Linked DNA regions of Homo sapiens: region 1 is linked to region 2. The links come from fine-mapping of genetic effects on gene expression. A gene starts in region 2. The other region holds a variant in brackets. All regions are shown on one strand. Distances are between the middles of the regions. Region 1 overlaps GAN (gigaxonin). Region 2 holds the start of GAN (gigaxonin).

The links. PIP is the estimated chance that this variant, and not a neighbour inherited with it, causes the effect. A credible set is the group of variants that fine-mapping cannot tell apart.
Region 1: its variant is the best candidate, but not a certain one, in a credible set for the expression of GAN in testis (GTEx, PIP 0.66).

Annotation. Positions count from the first base shown.
Region 1 is chr16:81,374,726-81,383,451 of GRCh38, forward strand. It overlaps GAN (gigaxonin), which reads left to right. Exons shown (of 11, transcript NM_022041.4): 10 at 2,494-2,603; 11 at 2,690-8,726. The coding sequence ends at 2,871. Among named protein-coding and RNA genes, the nearest start is that of MIR4720, 5.9 kb to the right of the region's middle. The variant C/G (reference allele first, on the strand shown) is at 3,343.
Region 2 is chr16:81,310,175-81,318,900 of GRCh38, forward strand. GAN (gigaxonin) reads left to right here and starts at 4,788. Exons shown (of 11, transcript NM_022041.4): 1 at 4,788-5,106. The coding sequence starts at 4,940. RefSeq lists an enhancer at 4,625-4,824 and silencers at 4,835-5,174, 5,315-5,374, 5,395-5,664.

The sequences.
Region 1 (8,726 bases), 65 kb after region 2:
TATCTGGCACGACAGGATGCCCCAGGCCCCTCTTGTATTTTCTCTGCCTCAGCTCTGGGATCAAGCACTTCTTCATAGAGCCTCAAATCCTTTTAGTGGTTATTAAATTGATTTTCAACAGAGGTGCCAAGGCAATTTAGTGGGGGAAAGAAAAGCCTTTAGCAAATGGTGCTGGAACAGCTAGCTATCTGTATGGAAGAAAGTGAACTGTGATTCATGTCAGACCCAAAAAATTAACTTGAAATGTATCATAGACCTAAATGTAAAAGATAAAACTAAAAGTTCCAGAAGAGAGCATAGGAGAAAAATCTTCGTATTGGGGTAGGCAAAGATTTTTTAGAATGACACAGAAACTGTGACTGTAAAAGAAGAAAAGGATATATTGGAATTCATCAAAATTAAAAACTTCTGTTCTTCAAAAGAGTCCATTAGGAAAATGAAAAGGCCACCTACATGCTGGGAAAAAATATTCATAATACATTTATCTAGCAAAGTATCTATATCCACAGGATATAAAGAATCTGACAATTGAATAAGAAGAAGACAGTAAACCCAATTAAAAAAAAAATTTAGAGACAGTCTTGCTACGTCCTTTTTTTTTTTTTTAATTTATCTTTTTTTTTTTTTTTTTGAGACAGGGTCTCACTTTTGCCCAGGCTGAAGTGCAGTGGCATGATCTCAACTCACTGCAGCCTTGACCTCCTTGACTCAAGCAATCCTCCCACCTCAGCCTGAGTAGCTGGGACAGATGCCACCACATTTGGCTAATTTTTGTATTTTTTGTAAAGACAAGGTTTCGCCATGTTGCCCAGCTGGTCTTGAACTCCTGGGCTCAAGTGATTCACCTGCCTCAACCTCCCAAAGTATTGGGATTGCAGACTTGAGCCACCACACCTGGCCCCCAGTTTTAAAGTGAGCAAACCTTTAAACAGACATTTTATAAAAGAACATAAAATGGGGCTGGGTATGGTGGCTCACACCTGCAATCCCAGTACTTTAGGAGGCCAAGACAGAAGGATCACTTGAGCCCTGGAACCTGAGATCAGCCTGGGTAGCATGGTGAGACCTCATCTCTATGGAAAAAAAAAAAATTCATTAGCTGGGTGTGGTGGTGTGCACCTGTGGTCCCAACTATTTGGGAGGGTGGGGTGAGAGGATCACTAGAGTCCAAGAGGTTGAGACTGCAGTGAGCTGTGATTGCACCACTGCACTCCAGCCTGGATGAGTGACAGAGTAAGACCCTGTCTCAAAAAAAAAAAAAAAAAATTCCATAAAATGACCAATAAGCTCAGGCAAAGATGCTCAACATCATTGGTCTTCAGGGAAGTATACGCCATTAAAGTAGCCAAAATTAAAAATATAATACTCAGATCTCACAGTGATACTGAGCAGTTGGAATTCTCATGCATTGCTAATTGGAGTGCAAAATTATGGCACAAAGCTTTGGAAAGCAGTGGGGCACTTTTTTTTTTTCCAGTAAACAATAACCTTACCATATAGCCCAGCAATTTCATAAGTCCGCAAAAAAGACTTGCTCTCTAATGTTCCTGACAGCCTTATTCATAACAGCCAAAAACTGGAACGTCAACAGGTGAATGAATAACAAATTCTGGGGCTGGACTCTGTGGCTTACGCCTGTTATACAGCATTTTAGGATGCTGAGGTGGGCAGATCACCTGAGCCCAGGAGCTCAAGACCAGCCTGGGCAACATGGCAATATCCCATCTTTATACATACATATGTGTGTGTGTGTGTGTGTGTGTGTGTGTGTGTGTGTGTGTGTGTATGTGTGTGTGTATACATATATGTGTATATGTATATACACACATATACATATATATGTGTATATGTGTATATATGTATGTATAAGTATATATTATATGTATGTATATGTATATATACATACATATATGTGTGTATATATGTGTGTATATATGTGTGTATATACATATGTGTATATGTGTATATATATGCACACGCATACACACACACACACACAGGAATTAGCTGAATGTGGTGGTGCACACCTGTAATCTCAGCTACTTGGAAGGCTGGGGTGGGAGGATCACCTGAACTGGTAGGTTGAGGCTGCAGTGAACCATAATTGTGCCACTGCACTCGGGAGGCCCTGTCTGAAAAACCAACAAATTCTGGTACATCCGTATGATGGAGTACTGCTTAGAAATAAACAGAAATGAATGACAGATGCAAACAACAGTGTGGATGAATCTCAGAAACCTTGTGCTGAGCAGAAGCAGGTTGGAAAGCACATGCTGTTTATGACTCAATACATGTTTCATTCTAGCACAGACAAAACTCCTATCTGTAGCGACTGGCAGCATGTCGGTGGTTACCTGGCAGTGGAACGTGGGGTCGAGATTGGCACAGTGCCTGATACTGCTGATGACTCACCAAGCTTGCTGTGTCAGTCTTCCTAGATGTTGTTGTCATCCTTTTGATTTCCTTAATTTTGTGCATGGGCTTTGTTTTCAGGTGGATCTATCTTAACGACCAGAATTTATGCATCCCCGCCAGTTCCTCTTTTGTTTATGGAGCTGTACCTATAGGAGCCAGTATTTATGTTATTGGAGATCTTGATACAGGTAAGAGTGTTACAGTGATTTTCTTGGAACTGTTTCCTGGTGATTCTGGGTACATTTTCTCACCCTTGCTTATTTCTGTGGCTTAGGTACCAATTACGACTACGTGCGTGAGTTTAAAAGAAGCACAGGAACCTGGCACCACACTAAACCACTCCTTCCATCCGACCTTCGCCGTACAGGATGTGCAGCCTTACGCATTGCGAATTGCAAGCTTTTCCGCCTGCAGCTTCAGCAAGGCTTATTCCGTATTCGTGTTCATTCCCCTTGAGGAGGAAGCAGAGCAGAGTGCGAGATCCTGACCCAAGAGCACCATAACATAGCTCCGAAAGGGAGAGCAGAGATGGCAGCTGAAACTCACTCTGTGCTGGGCTTTGGTATGGTAACTCTTTGGTGGTTTTATGATGCTTACAAACTTGAGCTTTAGCTCTTGTTTGGGAGAACACGTAACTGTTGAAAAACTACCTGGGAGGAGTGAGTTCCTCCAGTTAAATGTGGCTGTAGATGTTGGAGGCTAGGGAGGCTAGTAAATATCAAAAGGAAAAGGGAGTGGGAATTGCTATCATGTAAAATATCAAAGTTAAAATACTAAGGTGCATTTTCCCTGAAGGGAACTCATGTCTGACTGCTGTATTCAAATACGTAGCTTTGGTAACAAACAAAATCCGTATATGCAAATCAACATATCCAAACATGCCAAGACTGCTTTTCCACTGCACTTGGAAGGATATATTATGCCTAA[C/G]CCTGCCCAACAAATTAAGGTTTGTGCCTAAAATGTTAGATTGGACTGTATGCCAGTTAGTCTCCATTTATTCCTAGTACTCTGTCCTAAGAATCTTTTTAAAACTATATCATGATGAATTGAAATGAAGATAAAATTGCTCTTTTGTAACTTTATCTTAGTAATGTAAAGATTCAGTAAATTGATGAGTCAGGTTGCAGCCCTCATGTGAACTGAAAGAAGTTGCTCGCTTCTGTGTTGACTTAGATCAAGACACGTCACGCATCCTTTCTGGGGTAGTACCTGTGGAGCCGGGAAGGGTCTCCTGCAGTGCCATTCTGCCTTCTCAATGAGCAAAACCATTTTCTAAGTATGAGGATATTAGTGAGTAGGAGATTTTATAAAAGAAAGACCTGAGTCAGACAAATAATAAAGGTCTGCTGTGGCTAAAAAAGCAAAAACAAAAAAGCTATCCAGACAAAATACATAGGGATCAGAAACTTTTTCATATAACCTGTCTGAAAGCACACAAAGTCTTGTTTACTACTGTTTAGGGTTTGAAAACTTGTCTTAGAATGCGAATCTGTGTTAAGAATCTAGTCTTTGTAATAGAAGTTTCCCAGTGGCATTCACTAGTGAGAGTTTTAGACAAATTATGTTACGAGTAAAGTTTGGCTGGTAGAATAAACTACCTCAACTTAATTTCATTCTGTTCATAGTAGAGCAAATTAATCTTTTCCTCCTTCCCTCCTTTCCTATCTCTCATTCTCACCTCAACCCACTTTACCCCACTTCTCATTGGGGGAAAAATGTCTTTCGTTCGTGGAACGTATCTTGTAAGATATTTTGTTTTCCACTTGAATTACACCACCCTAGTGTGAAATCGGGGACTTCAAAGTGCTTGATTCCTTCCTAAATTGAATTTTATGCAATGTCAAATTTCTAATCAATTTAATATACAGTACTTCATTTTTAATTGTTTTCTAAAAAAAAGGTTTTTTTTTTCCTTTTGGAATATGGCTGTAAGAAGCAGCATTTTGTCTTATTAACACATGTATAAAGGTATCCTTTGGTTTTAAGTCGAGAACAGGAATTTCTTCTAGAAACTTCCTGTATGGAACGTTTATATGCAATTAACATGCATATGAAAAACATCACTTACGTTCTCCCACCCATAGACATAAAAAAGGGTGACCTGTGATTTTTTTTCTTATACCTGCTGGAAGTCAGTACAATGCGTCAAAAGTTGCTGAAAGATGCTGTGCCTATGGGGTTCTAGAGAGTGTTGAGTGTGGTACATTAACTCTCCATTTTAGCCAGAAGATACCTGATAAGAGAAGGTGTAAGGTTTTTATCTTATATGCCAGAGGCACCAGGCCAGATGTGCCGCACAGTCATGTAATTCAATCATGTTTAATATGTCAGTCAAAACCAAATTCAGAATTGTTTTGTGTACCAGTCAGCTGTTGTCTGCACATTTTCGTAGTGACAGTGTGGAGATCTTTTTAATGAAAGCAAACTATGTGGCCTCTGCAAAGAAAGGAAGATTTTTCTTTTTACAACTAGATATTAGTTTTAGAGGAAGGAAATAGCTGAAAAACTAAATTTGCTTTGGTGAAATGTCCTGTACAGAACAGTACCTTGGCATTCAGCAGCTGTAATTGGGGAACATTAAAACAGTAACTGACATCCAGTTAAAGCCACGATCGTCAGCAATTCTCCTTTTTTAATTTCTGATATTTAAAGTTTTTTTTCCAGTCTACACCAGGCCTCTCCAAGGAGACAGTTCATTATTTAGGAGTGAATGTGTTCCTCTTGCAATATTATCAGTACCTGCATGACTTGGTAAATTCATTTTATAAAAATAGTGTTTTTTTTTTTTAATTTCAGTTCATTGACTCTATAACTGCAGAAATTAGATAATGTTTTATAAAATAAATTTGCCACATAATATGGGATGCAATAACCAACAAAGCTGCTAAGTGCCAAACTGTTATTTTACTATATATAAATATTAAAATATTGTGTTGAAGTATAGGGATGTATTTAATTTTACTATGCTCCAACATTAATCATGACTCTTTTGTAAATTACAGTTATTTCAGTATTGTAAAATAAATGTTGACTCATTTCATGCAGGTTTGTGTTTTAACATTCCACTTATGCCTTGAAACATCATTTCTTGATAACTTTTTGATACTTCTTTCTTGATAAGGCACTTTTACCAGGTGTGTGTTGGAATTGGTGGCTCAGGATAGGTCTTAAATTTTAAATACAAATATCTTTGGGGGAAGTGCAATTTATTTTCAGAAGGAAAGTTGTCTCAGGTTAGAATAAGTAAATATTTAAAGAACCTCTCCTAGGCTGCAGTCTAAAATAGGTAGTTTGTTTCTTTGTTTAGCATATCCAAATTTAGATTTTTCAAAGATTTAAGTGTTTATTGAAAGTGTTTTTTGTTTTGTTTTTGATAGTGCTTATATCCTGTGAATAGAAAAAGTGTGAGAGATGAATGAGTGAGTTGTACGTGTGTGTGTGATGCTATTTGACCTGATAAATGTATTTGTGTTTACTTTTTGAATTGTAGTTCTAAACTACATATATTACTGTCTCCTGGTGCTTCAGATAAATTCTTGAGCCTGTTGACCTTCAGTTTATACTACTGTGTCGAACTCATATTGAGTGTAAATATTGAAATATTTGTAGTTTATAGTAAGTTTTACTTGGTGTTCGCGTTTCTCTTCTTCAGCAGGATTAAAAACAGTGTTTACCAACTCGTAGTTGGTATACTGTCAGGATTTGGCCTAAGAAATTTCTGAATGCATTGTTTAGCTTAGTACTTCATTGCTGTAAGGAATTGATAGCTAACTGTAGGCTTTTTTCAAACTGTATAACAACCAAAAAGGAGCATTTGGGGGTATGTTGGATGGTGTTTTGTTTGTAAACACTTTGTTATATTGCACTACCACTTTAATGATGACACTTCCTTCATTGATGGCTTGGAAGTGTCATTTTTATAATTTATGAGTTGGGGGGATTCCCTAGTCAATGCATAGGAAATACATTCTTTGTACAAACGTGGTAAAGAGAGGACTGGCTTTGCTATGGCACCTAAGTTACTCATGGGTAGTTAAGTTTCATTTCTAGAGAAATGTCTTAGCTGCTGTGGTCCATTAGAGTTCCCTTTGGTACATTCCTACCTCAGTGTACCAAACCAGGGATTCCAAAAACCTTCCAAGGAGTGCTAGAAACACCGCAGTATCCCCTTCCAGAATGTTGGCGTTCATGATTCAAGAGGCCTCCCGTGGTCAGATGAAGACCTTTGGTTAAATGGGGGAAGAATGAGGTGGCGCTTTGACTGTATCAATTTAAAGATGCCGGAACCCCGTTAAAAACACCTGGTGGAAGGGAAAGGTGAGGCGGCCCTTTTCCACTGGCTGCTCACTGAGCACTGGAGTCCAGGAAGTCAGTGAGAAGAGAGCAGCTGAGTGTAGCAAAACCCGCCTTGGGTCAGCCAACACATGTCTGATGAGCACCCACTAGGAACTGTGCTTGCCATCCTGGGAGCTGAACAGTGAGGCAGAGGTCACACCACTCTCCTACTCAAGGTCATAAACCCACTATGGAACGGGCAAGGGCCCCGTCTTTGTCATCTGCCAGTCTCAGTGCTTGCACAGAGTAGGTAGGCAATAAACATTTGACAAATAAATATAAGATTCTTGTGATCAAAGTAATGTTCTTCTGTTGAAAAGGGCACTCCAAGAGTGACTGATTTTACTGGGTTTTCAGTGAGAAACTTTGTACCCATATGGGCTGGCCTCCTATACGGAGCTGAAACTAGCATGGGCCGGCCTCCTATATGGAGCTGAAACTAGTATAGCATAAACAATGCCAAGTGCCTGATGTACATGATGTACAGTCTTCTGATTGTACCCTCTATATGGGACTATGAGACCCTCTATAGACTCAGCACAGCTTATAATGTTGATCATGTTTAGTATTGGGCTTTATTGACTGCTTTTTATATGGGTGTCAAAATCTTTCCAGGACATACCCCTTTGATCCTCACACCTCTGGAATAGGCAGGGCACTCTCCCCATTGTACCAGGGTAATCTTGGAGGCCTGATAGATATGGCTTCATTTCTCACTTTAGGGAGGAGCAAGAACCAAAAGCAGAAGCCAGGTCTTTGGATTATCAGCTCACCAGTCAGCCAGTGAGGCTGGAACTTGATTTTTCTAGGCATACAAGTATTTTTAGTAATAGAATAATCATTTTTAGTATTAATACAATTTACGCTCCCAAACATGTCCTTTGCTAGTTGCACAGGCATAAGCTGAAAGATCTTTGATTTTCTTTGTTAGTTAGCTATAGGAAGGTTAAGAATTTATTTACTAAGGTCGTAAGAACAGAAGAAAGTTTCTTTGAAAGAGAAACTGTTTTTTTATTTCAAAGAGCTTCATGTATACTTCCCTCTCTTATTCCATGTAATTAGTAAGGGAAAATAAACTATGTCTTAGAATGTTGAGGAAAGTATTTTGATAGCTTTTAATAATTCTTGAAATACTCTTTACTCTGTCTGTAGTTTTGAGAAATTACAGAAATTCATAGTATAAGGATGAGAAGGGGCCCATTTGCCCATATTTGATAACACAGACTTGGATTGAGTGTCTGTCATGCCTGCTGGCAGTTAAGTCTCAGTGGTATTGACTGCTAGGCATTTTCTATATTTTTTGCAAGTTAGCTGGTAAAACTTGGTAAAGTTTTGTGTTTTTCAGAAGGAACCCTATTATTATTTCCATTTTAAACATATTTCAATATTGTCTCATTGTAATAGTTCCATTTATGTGACATCTGAGGAATTAAATCATACTTCCAGATGGTTTGGTCTAATGTATACAGTTTAGGAAAGTTTATTCTTTTTTATTTTATTTTATTTTTTTAAATTTCTTTTAGAAACTGGGTTTTGCTCTGTTGCCCAGGCTGATCTTAAACTCCTGGCCTCAGATGTGGAGACCCAGCTGGGACTACAGGCATGAGCCACCACGCTCCGTAGAAAGTTTGTTCTTTTTCAGTTCTGTCATTGAAATTCTCTAAGTGATTGGATTTTTAAACCCCTTCCCCTTTTCATGAAATTAAACATCAAATAAATAAAACTACATTATATAATTATTTAGTCAGAAATGACTGTTGCCCTCTCTTTTTTTTTTTTTTTTTTTTTTTTTTTTGAGACGGAGTCTCGCTCTGTCGCCTAGGCTGGAGTGCAGTGGTGCGATCTCGGCTCACTGCAATCTCCGCCTCCTGGGTTCAAGCAATCATCCTGCCTCAGCCTCCCCAGTACCTGGGATTACAGGTGCTTATTACCACACTCGGCGAATTTTTTGTGTTTTTAGTAGAGACGGGGTTTCA
Region 2 (8,726 bases):
ACTTCTCTGAGTACTGTGTAAATATATAGAACCAACTCTGAAGCGTTATAAATACTGAGATGTTCTCTGACTCAGCAATTTGAAAGAGCCTAGACTTTTTTTTGGAAAGAAAACAGCTATATATAGATTTGGACAAATGAAAGATTTACCCAATAAAATATCTGAAGACTACCTTAAAATGAATCAGAAGAGACTGTCTCAAACAAATGAATGTTTATGACAAGTCGACTTGGTGTAATGGAAAAGCTTACAGGGCTGGAAAGCAGAAGATCTAGACCTTAGTCTGTTCTGCCCTGACTGGGTCACACCTATAACCTTGACTGAGTCATTTGCTCATCTGTACTTTGGTTTTCTCTTCAATAAGATAAATCCGTTGGACTTGATATTTGCTAAAGAATTTTCAAACTGTTAATATTTTCTTTGCATTATTTCTCTTACTGGACTCTCTAAGTAGTTTTTAGGAAATAAAAGCCCAACCCCCCAAGTGGATTCCTCTCTTGAGGGCACATTTTTCAAAGCAAAAGAAAGCTTTTTTTTCCCTTTTTGCAAAAAGACATTGCTTTCTTGTTTTTTTAATGATTGTAAAAAATTATGCATGATCAGTACAGAAAATAGAAATCGAGGAAAATACAGAGTAAAAGCTTCTATAATAACACTGAGACAACTATACTTTCACCATCACTGTATCTGTAGCAGGTATCGTACAGCAGGTGCTTTAAAAACAGTTGTTGAATGAATGATTACTGTTAATATCTTGCAAACATCCTTTTTGGTCTTCAGACCAAAAACGAATACATAAATAAATCCTTTCTCTGGGTTGTTTCACCTCTAAACCAGAAGAGCTCAGTAAAGCCACCAGAGACTAAAGCTGTTAGGACAATATCAAATCTCTTACATTGTAATATGTTTCACAATGACAGTTGATATCTGATGCCTATGGAATATAAGGAAACAATAACATTTAATCCATCATTCTGATAGGCACAATATCAAGGGTGGCTCAGTTTGAGCAATATCAAGAAGGCTGCAAAACAGTCCACAGTACTTCAGCTCAAGCAAGAGTGGCTCCGGCAGCACTGGGAGAGTTGGCTCTGCCTCCTGAATCCTTCTTCCCACACTTGGGCCCTCTTCCTTGCCCACAGCACCAGGAGGAGCTTTCTGGGGCATGTGAATTCCACTCAACACATTTTATTGGCAACCTAGCAGCCATTTGATTGTCGACTACATTTTCAGTAAACTAATCGTTTCCTGATTACCTCTGAACATGAATTACAGCCAGATCTTGTCTGTAGACCCATGCTACATTTTTTCCTCCAAATGGAATTAGTTGCTAATGTTGAAAATCCGGAATATTCAACATGTAAAGTCTGAATTGTCAGAATCTCTTAAAAAGTTGTTAGATCCACCACCACTGGGCCCCTATCGCACAGAGCAATCAATCAGAGCTGAGGAGCATGTGCTCTTCAGCTCCCATAAGCCCACCTACTCCTATTGTCTGACATCCCACATCCCACAGTTTGCTTTGCTAATTTACCTGATACGCTCCTGCTAATTATGTAAAACATTCATGGGGTACCTACTACACATCAGGCACTGTGTAAGTCCTGGGAACATAGGCAGATAAGGCAAAGCCCCTGCCTTGGAGGAGCTCACAACCCAGCAGTGGAAATGACTTACAAACCAGTAAATTACAGTACAGTATGGTGAGTACAGCACAGCAGCAGGAGCATGCAGAGGACTGACCCACTCTGTCCTGGGAAGCCAGCTCAAGATTTCCTGAAGGCCATGGTTAAGCTGGGTTTTGAAGGATGAATAAGAGTTCACCAGGCCAATGGAGTGGTGGGGAATACTAGCAACAGTGTGGGTGGTATTAAAAATATATATAAAGTCTTCTTCTGCTTAGCTGCCTGTTGCACAGATGATCCTCTCAAGCCAGCAACTACCTTTCTCTTGATGGTCATTCCATTTCCTCCTTCTATCAAAACAACAGGGAAGGTTCACCTTTATCTGGAAGAGCCTGCCTGACAAATCCCCATTCACCTCCAGTTACTTCAACTAAGGCAACCTTCCTACTCGGATAATTGGTTACCTGACTGTGATCCTACTATTGGAGCTCTTTGTTTTGGAACCTCTGATATTTAAAGAATAGACTAGCACAATAAGCAATTAATAAGTACTTATCAAATATTTACATTGTGTAGAGAACTCTCCCTGGTTTTTGACTTTAAAAATGGCAAACACAAATTAACTAAGAACAGATAGAGAATACAGTTCAGAAAACATTTATTTATTTTATTTTTTATTTTTTTTGAGACAGAGTCTTGCTCTGTCACCCAGGCTGGAGTGCAATGGCGTGATCTCGGCTCACTGCAACCTCTGCCTCCCGGGCTCAAGTGATTCTCCTGCCTCAGCCTCCTGAGCAGTGGGGATTACAGGTGCCTGCCACCACACCTAGCTAATTTTTGTATTTTTAGTAGAGACGGCGTTTTACCATGTTGGCCAGGCTGGTCTCGAACTTCTGACCTCGTGATCCGCCCATCTCGGCCTCCCAAGAAACATTTATTAAGTGTCTGATATTCAGGTGTTTTTCTTTTTTTTAATCCCTCCATCCATCCAACATTCAGTTAGCACTATTACGCACCAAGTACTGTGCTTGGTACCTGGAAATCATGCTGAGCTACAATAAACATAGTATAGCAGGTGACATGGATAAATAAACCCATTATAAAAAGTTTCTTGCTCGAGCAATGTTCAAAATACAGCAACTGCTTGGAGAAAGGAATGTCAGCTGCTCACAGGGATACTGGGTAGGTATCATGGAGAAGATAAGTCCAAGCTGCTTGTCTTGTGTGTTTCTTACCTTTTTAAATATATTTTTCGGCCGGGTGTGGTGGCTTATGCCTGTAATTCCAGTACTTTGGGAAGCCAAGGTGGGCGGATCACAAGGTCAGGAGTTCGATACCAGCCTGGCCAACATGGTAAAACCCCATCTCTACTAAAGATGCAAAAGTTAGCCAGGCATGGTGGCACATGCCTGTAGTCCCAGCTACTTGGGAGGCTGAGGCAGGAGAACCACTTGAACCCGGGAGGCGGAGGTTGCAGTGAACAGAGATTGCACAACTGCACTCCAGCCTGGGCAATAGAGGGAGACTCCATCTCAAAAAAAAAAAAGAAAGAAGAAAATATTTTTCAACATCCACAAAAATATAGAAACAGTACAATGAATCTCCACATCCCCATTAAACATCCACAACAATATAGAGACAGTACAACGAATCTCCACATCCCCATTACGTGGCTTTAACAATTAGTAACTTGCGGCCACTTTTGACTCATCTACACTCCCATCTGCTTCCCCATCCCTTTGTTTTGTTTTGAAGCAAATCCTAGACATCTTTATCATTGCATCCGGGAACACTGAGCTGCATTTACAGAAGAAAGTGGAAATGCATGTGTCTTCCACAGCCGTACCCTCCCCATCTATTCTGCCCTGAAAACAGTTAGATACTCGGATTCCTGCCAGTGACTCCAAAGCCTTGGCTGGTTCAGGGTAAATACCCAAGACTTTATTGGAGCCTTTCAGTTGGTTGAAGGACAGTGAAAATTCCATCCTGTCTTGCCTGGAATGCTAGCCACATTCTTCTGGTCCGGAGTCCTCATACAATTGCTAATTTTTTAGAGGCTTATGGAGTCCCTAACGTTTGCACAAAATGGTTGCTACATTCCACACTCCCATGTGCCCTGAGCAACCTCCAGGGAAACTTCAGATACCGTGGGGCTTGGCCTGCCAGCTGAGCTGACCCAGCGATCCTTTCTATCACAGCTTTGATCTTCACTGGGTTGGGAGCCTGTCTGAATCTAAACATCTGCCTCTCTACTGCCCACCCCTTCAGCATTTCCTAGCTCTCCCTGAAAGGTGCAAACATGCATGCAGTTACTCAAACAGAATATTTATCCTTAACTCCCTCTCCCTCACAATTTCTTTTAAAACAATCCACTATTGTCTACCCCCGCCCCCGCATCACCCTTTCATCCAGGTGCCCATTCCCTTCTCTCTAGTCCTGCAATACCTAAGCATCGATCTGCCTTTAGCACATCCATCCCCGCCTTATTCTCCACGCAGGAGCTGAGTGACCTGCACAAAATCCCCTGCTAAATACGGTACTTCCATGGTTCTTCACCACTGCAGAAACCAAACTCCTTCCCACACCAAGGAGGCCCTGCAAAATTTAAGGCCTCCTTCGGACTTCTCCAGCTTCATCTGCTACATCTCCTTCCTAGCCCGCAACCAAAACCATCTTTTCCGGGTCTGTTTTCTCGGGTTTTTGTCCTCTCACCTGGGCAGCTCCTTTTCTCTCATAAATAAAGAAAGCTACAGCGACTTCGCCCTTGCTTCCATGCATCATCTCATGAGTCCACAACAACACTAAGAATTCGCTTTCATTTTGCAGACGGAGAAACTGAGGATGGGCACCTTACCCATGGCCACAGAGCTAGTAAGTGGAACAGCTGCAACCAGGATTCAAACTCGCGGCTCCAGAGGCCACAGGCTTAACCACGGAATCCTAGCCCGCCCGCACATCCCTCCATCGCGGGAGCGACCTATCTCATCCGTAGACACCTTCCGCTGCACCCAGCCGCAGCTGGTCAGGCGGGCGGAGGAAGGAGGCTTCTGATTGGCCATCTCCAGCAGCGGAGGCGAGAAGGCGGGGAGCGACGGTGCGGGGGCGTCGCGGAGAAATGACTTCATGACGCGGCTTCTTAAAGGCGCCGGCCCAGCGCGCCGCGGATAGCACAGGCACGTCCCGGGGGCTCCAGCTTCTGCTCAGAGCGCGGAGAGCCGGGCCGGGCGGGCGCGCGCGCAGGACTCGGGCCGCTCGAGGGGTCCGGCCGGACGGTGTCGGGAGCCGGACCCGTCGGCAGAGGAGCGGGCGCCGCGATGGCTGAGGGCAGTGCCGTGTCTGACCCTCAGCACGCCGCGCGTCTGCTGCGAGCGCTCAGCTCTTTCCGCGAGGAGTCTCGCTTCTGCGACGCGCACCTGGTCCTCGACGGGGAGGAGATCCCGGTGCAGAAGAACATCCTGGCGGCGGCCAGCCCGTACATCAGGTGGGGAGGGGGCTACGGCGGGCGGGCGCGGCGGTGCTGCCCGGAGCCGGAGGCGGGGCGGCCGGGCCGGGCGTGGCCCCCAGACCCTGTCCCCTGTCCCCGGCGCCGGGGTCCCCGCGTCACCGTTGGCGCGGCGTCCCTCCCGGCAAGCGCCGGAACCCGGCCCCGCTGACCGCGTCCCCCAGGCGGCCTCTGTGGCTTCCAGGCCCGCGCTCCCCACTGGACCCCCGCGCCCCTTGGAGTTGTCCCCGGACCCGGGCCGCGATCCCCCGCCTTGTCCCTCCCGGTTCCCACCGCCGCGGCGAGCGCCCGACCTCGGAGACCCTGAGGCCCCCAGACGCCGTCCTGGGCCGGCCGGGACCCGCACCTGCGGGCTGGGCGAGGCCGCGCCGGGGAAGAGTCACCCCCTCGCCCAGGCCGGGCCCGCGGTCCCCGCTGAAGTTCGCCAGTCGCTCGCCTCTGAATCCACGCGCGGGGGCTGGGCCGGCGCCGCCAACCAGGCGGGGAGCGCCCTGCCCGCTGGGAGGCCAGACAGACAGCGCCTCGCTGGGTGCAGGCAGAGAAAACCCTCTCGATGTTCTCCTTGGGTTGGTAGTCCGAACCTCCGGGCGAAATTCTCCTTGCCAAACGTGTCTTTTCCGCTCCATTCTGGTAACTGTTTAAAAGAGGAGTTACACGTTGAAGTAAACTGTAGCGAATTCTCAGGATGCTGTTACAACCCGAGGACCGTGAGAGCCTTGCGACAAAGGGCATTTTAATACTTTAGTAAAGCAAAGCTTAACCTGATTTGCCAACTCAACTAACCAGGTTAATTAAAAGGTTGATAAGACAGTGCTTATACAAGTGTATCAGATCTTGCAGGAGACTATCTTTTCTTTTAGCAACCTTCTTGCAAACTAGGTTGCTGTTTTAATAAAAGGAAAGGGGGGAATGCTAAAAACTGGAGAAACTGACCAGTAAGCTGGTTAAATATAAGCTAGTGGTAGAGAATATCACTACAATTGACAGGTCAGAAAAAGCAAAATGATGTGTATTCTTAGCGCTTTGTCCCAGCAAAACCACCACGCACGCTACACTTTTAACCTTTGCATTGGGGAGATATCTGTGCTAAACTTAGAAGAAATTCAAGTGCCCTTGTAACTTCTGGTTTCTCTTGGATTTGTTTTGTGAATCCATTTGCGCTCTTTGGCGGTGGGGAGTGTGGAGGGGTGGGGGGGCGGGGCGGCAGTAGGGTCTGGGGTAGCATCGTTAGTACAGAATTTGGATTGCTAATGTGACAGACAGCTTCTAGCTGGCAGTTCCGAGGTTTGAGCAACCCATCCCAAATTGGAGTCAGCAGACCAAAGTCTTCCCTGTTTGGGAAAATGCTGAAGAAAACTACTTTAGATGCATTATTGTTATAGTTCTTTAAATGGCATCCGTTTGGCTTAAAAGAAGTAAATTGCAAATTGCCGAATCCTTGCTTGTTATCCTTGTTCGTTTTTCTCCATAGCACTTACCACTTTGACGTACCCCATATTTTACACATTTACTTTGGTGGTCTTTCCCAACCACAGTGTGACCTCAATGAGGTCGTGGTGTTTTGTTTTGTTTTTCGAGACTGAGTTTCACTCTTTAGCCCAGGCTAGAGTGCAGTGGCGTGATCTCGGCCCACTGCAACCTCCGCCTTCCAGTTTCAAGCGATTCTCCTGCCTCAGCCTCCCGAGTAGCTGGGATTACAAACGCCCGCCACCACGCCCGGATAATTTTTGTATTTTTAGTAGAGTCGGGGTTTTACCATGTTGGCCAGGCTGGTCTCGAACTCCTCACCTCGTGATCCGCCCACCTCGGCCTCCCAAAGTGCTGGGATTACAGGCGTGAGCCGTGGCACCCGGCGGTGTTTTCTTTTATTCACTGCTTTACTCTTTGCACCCAGAAAGAACTGTGCCTATCAGTTAATGTATTGAATGAATGACTGCCTTTCTTTCTACCACAGCAAATGTGTACATTAGAAAATTGGCACCATCACATTTTCATAGTACACAGACGCTCAGTTATACCTAATTGAGAAACGCACTGGATTCAGAGTTTGAAGACCCGCTTTGTGCTTCCAGCTTTTACTCATATTAGCTGTGAGTTGCTGGTAGATGACAAGGCTTCAGCTCACTAATCTGATGAATGAGGGATAAAAATGAGTCTTCTCATTTAATCACACCTGTGAAGAAATACGTAATAGTGTTGACACCTCATAGGTCTGTTCCCATGTCTTCAAAGGTAGTACCCATTGAATTAGGAAATATCTGTAGTCCGGTTCTTTCACTTTCTAAATAAGAAAATAGGGGCTCAGTGGACATTAGTGACTTGTGTTATGAGGTTATTAGTACTTAATGGTTGAACTAGGATTAGACTCCAAATTAATTACGGCTAACCGCCTTCCTACTCTTGCCCTACCACGTTAGAGCATTACTTGTATTTCACCGTTCTCTTTGTGTAAACTTTACTGTTAGCTGGCTTACAATATCTTAGAATTAAAATGTTTATCAAGCACTTTTACATACTGTGTCATTTTGGTTTCCATTTTCAATCATCTTTAAAGAGAAGGCAGATTTTTTTTTTTTATGTTTTGTGGATAAACATGAATCAGTCAATATGTGTTTCATCAGTGACAGATGAATTGCTTTAAGTTTATTTGGCTATTGAAGTGATAGAATGTCTTGGGATGTTTTTAAAAATTATCAATTCCGAAGCTGTTTCAAAGTAATTTGACGAATCTGTATCACTAACTAGAAAGAAATTTGTTAATTTTGTATTTTTACTGGTAATTTTAATACCAATAATATTGGGCTTTTATAATGTACTTGTTTGTTTGAATAGCACTTTAGAGAATTATATTGAAACAAAATATATTTATGTATTCTAGAACTTGATGTTTCTTATCTTTCCCTTTTGAAACTTAAGCATTTAGATCTGTGATATCATTAATCTGTGAATTGAATGTTCAAAAGTTTGGTAATCTCTGAAGTTTTATAAAATTCTGATTTTGTTTAATGTCTGTGTTTGGCCTAGTGTTGGTAACTGTCATAAGTGGTTGTGTGATTGTGTGGTTTAGAAGCAGTGGTATGGCCTGGCATGGTAGCTCACACCTGTAATCCTAGCACTGTGAGAGGTGGAGGCGGGAGGATCGTTTGAGGTCAGGAGTTCGAGACTAGCCTGGGCAACATAGTGAGACCCAGTCTGTACAATAATAAATCATGTATATAAAAAATAGGAGCAGTATTGTCTTTTGCTTACTATGTGCCCAACAAAGGAAGCCAGTCCAACTCTGTCACACTGGGAATTAAAGTAACTTGTTTGGCATACTTTCTACTTAATATAGAAAAGTCTTTTGACTTATTGGTTTAATCTTTTATTCTGCTTTATCTTTGGTCTAGCCCTTGTTTTTCCTGCTGACACCCTTAGCAATCCTACCATATTAGAAAGATTTTAAATATAAAAGGAAAAGGCCAGAAAACTCAGCTTTGGCAACACACCCTCATGGTCAGCTCAGAGAGGACTGGCATCCCCGGGTTATGTAGAGAGAGCACGTGTCATGCAGCCCTAGGGTGCAGCTGCTCCAGGAAGGAGGCAGGACCTCCTGCGGT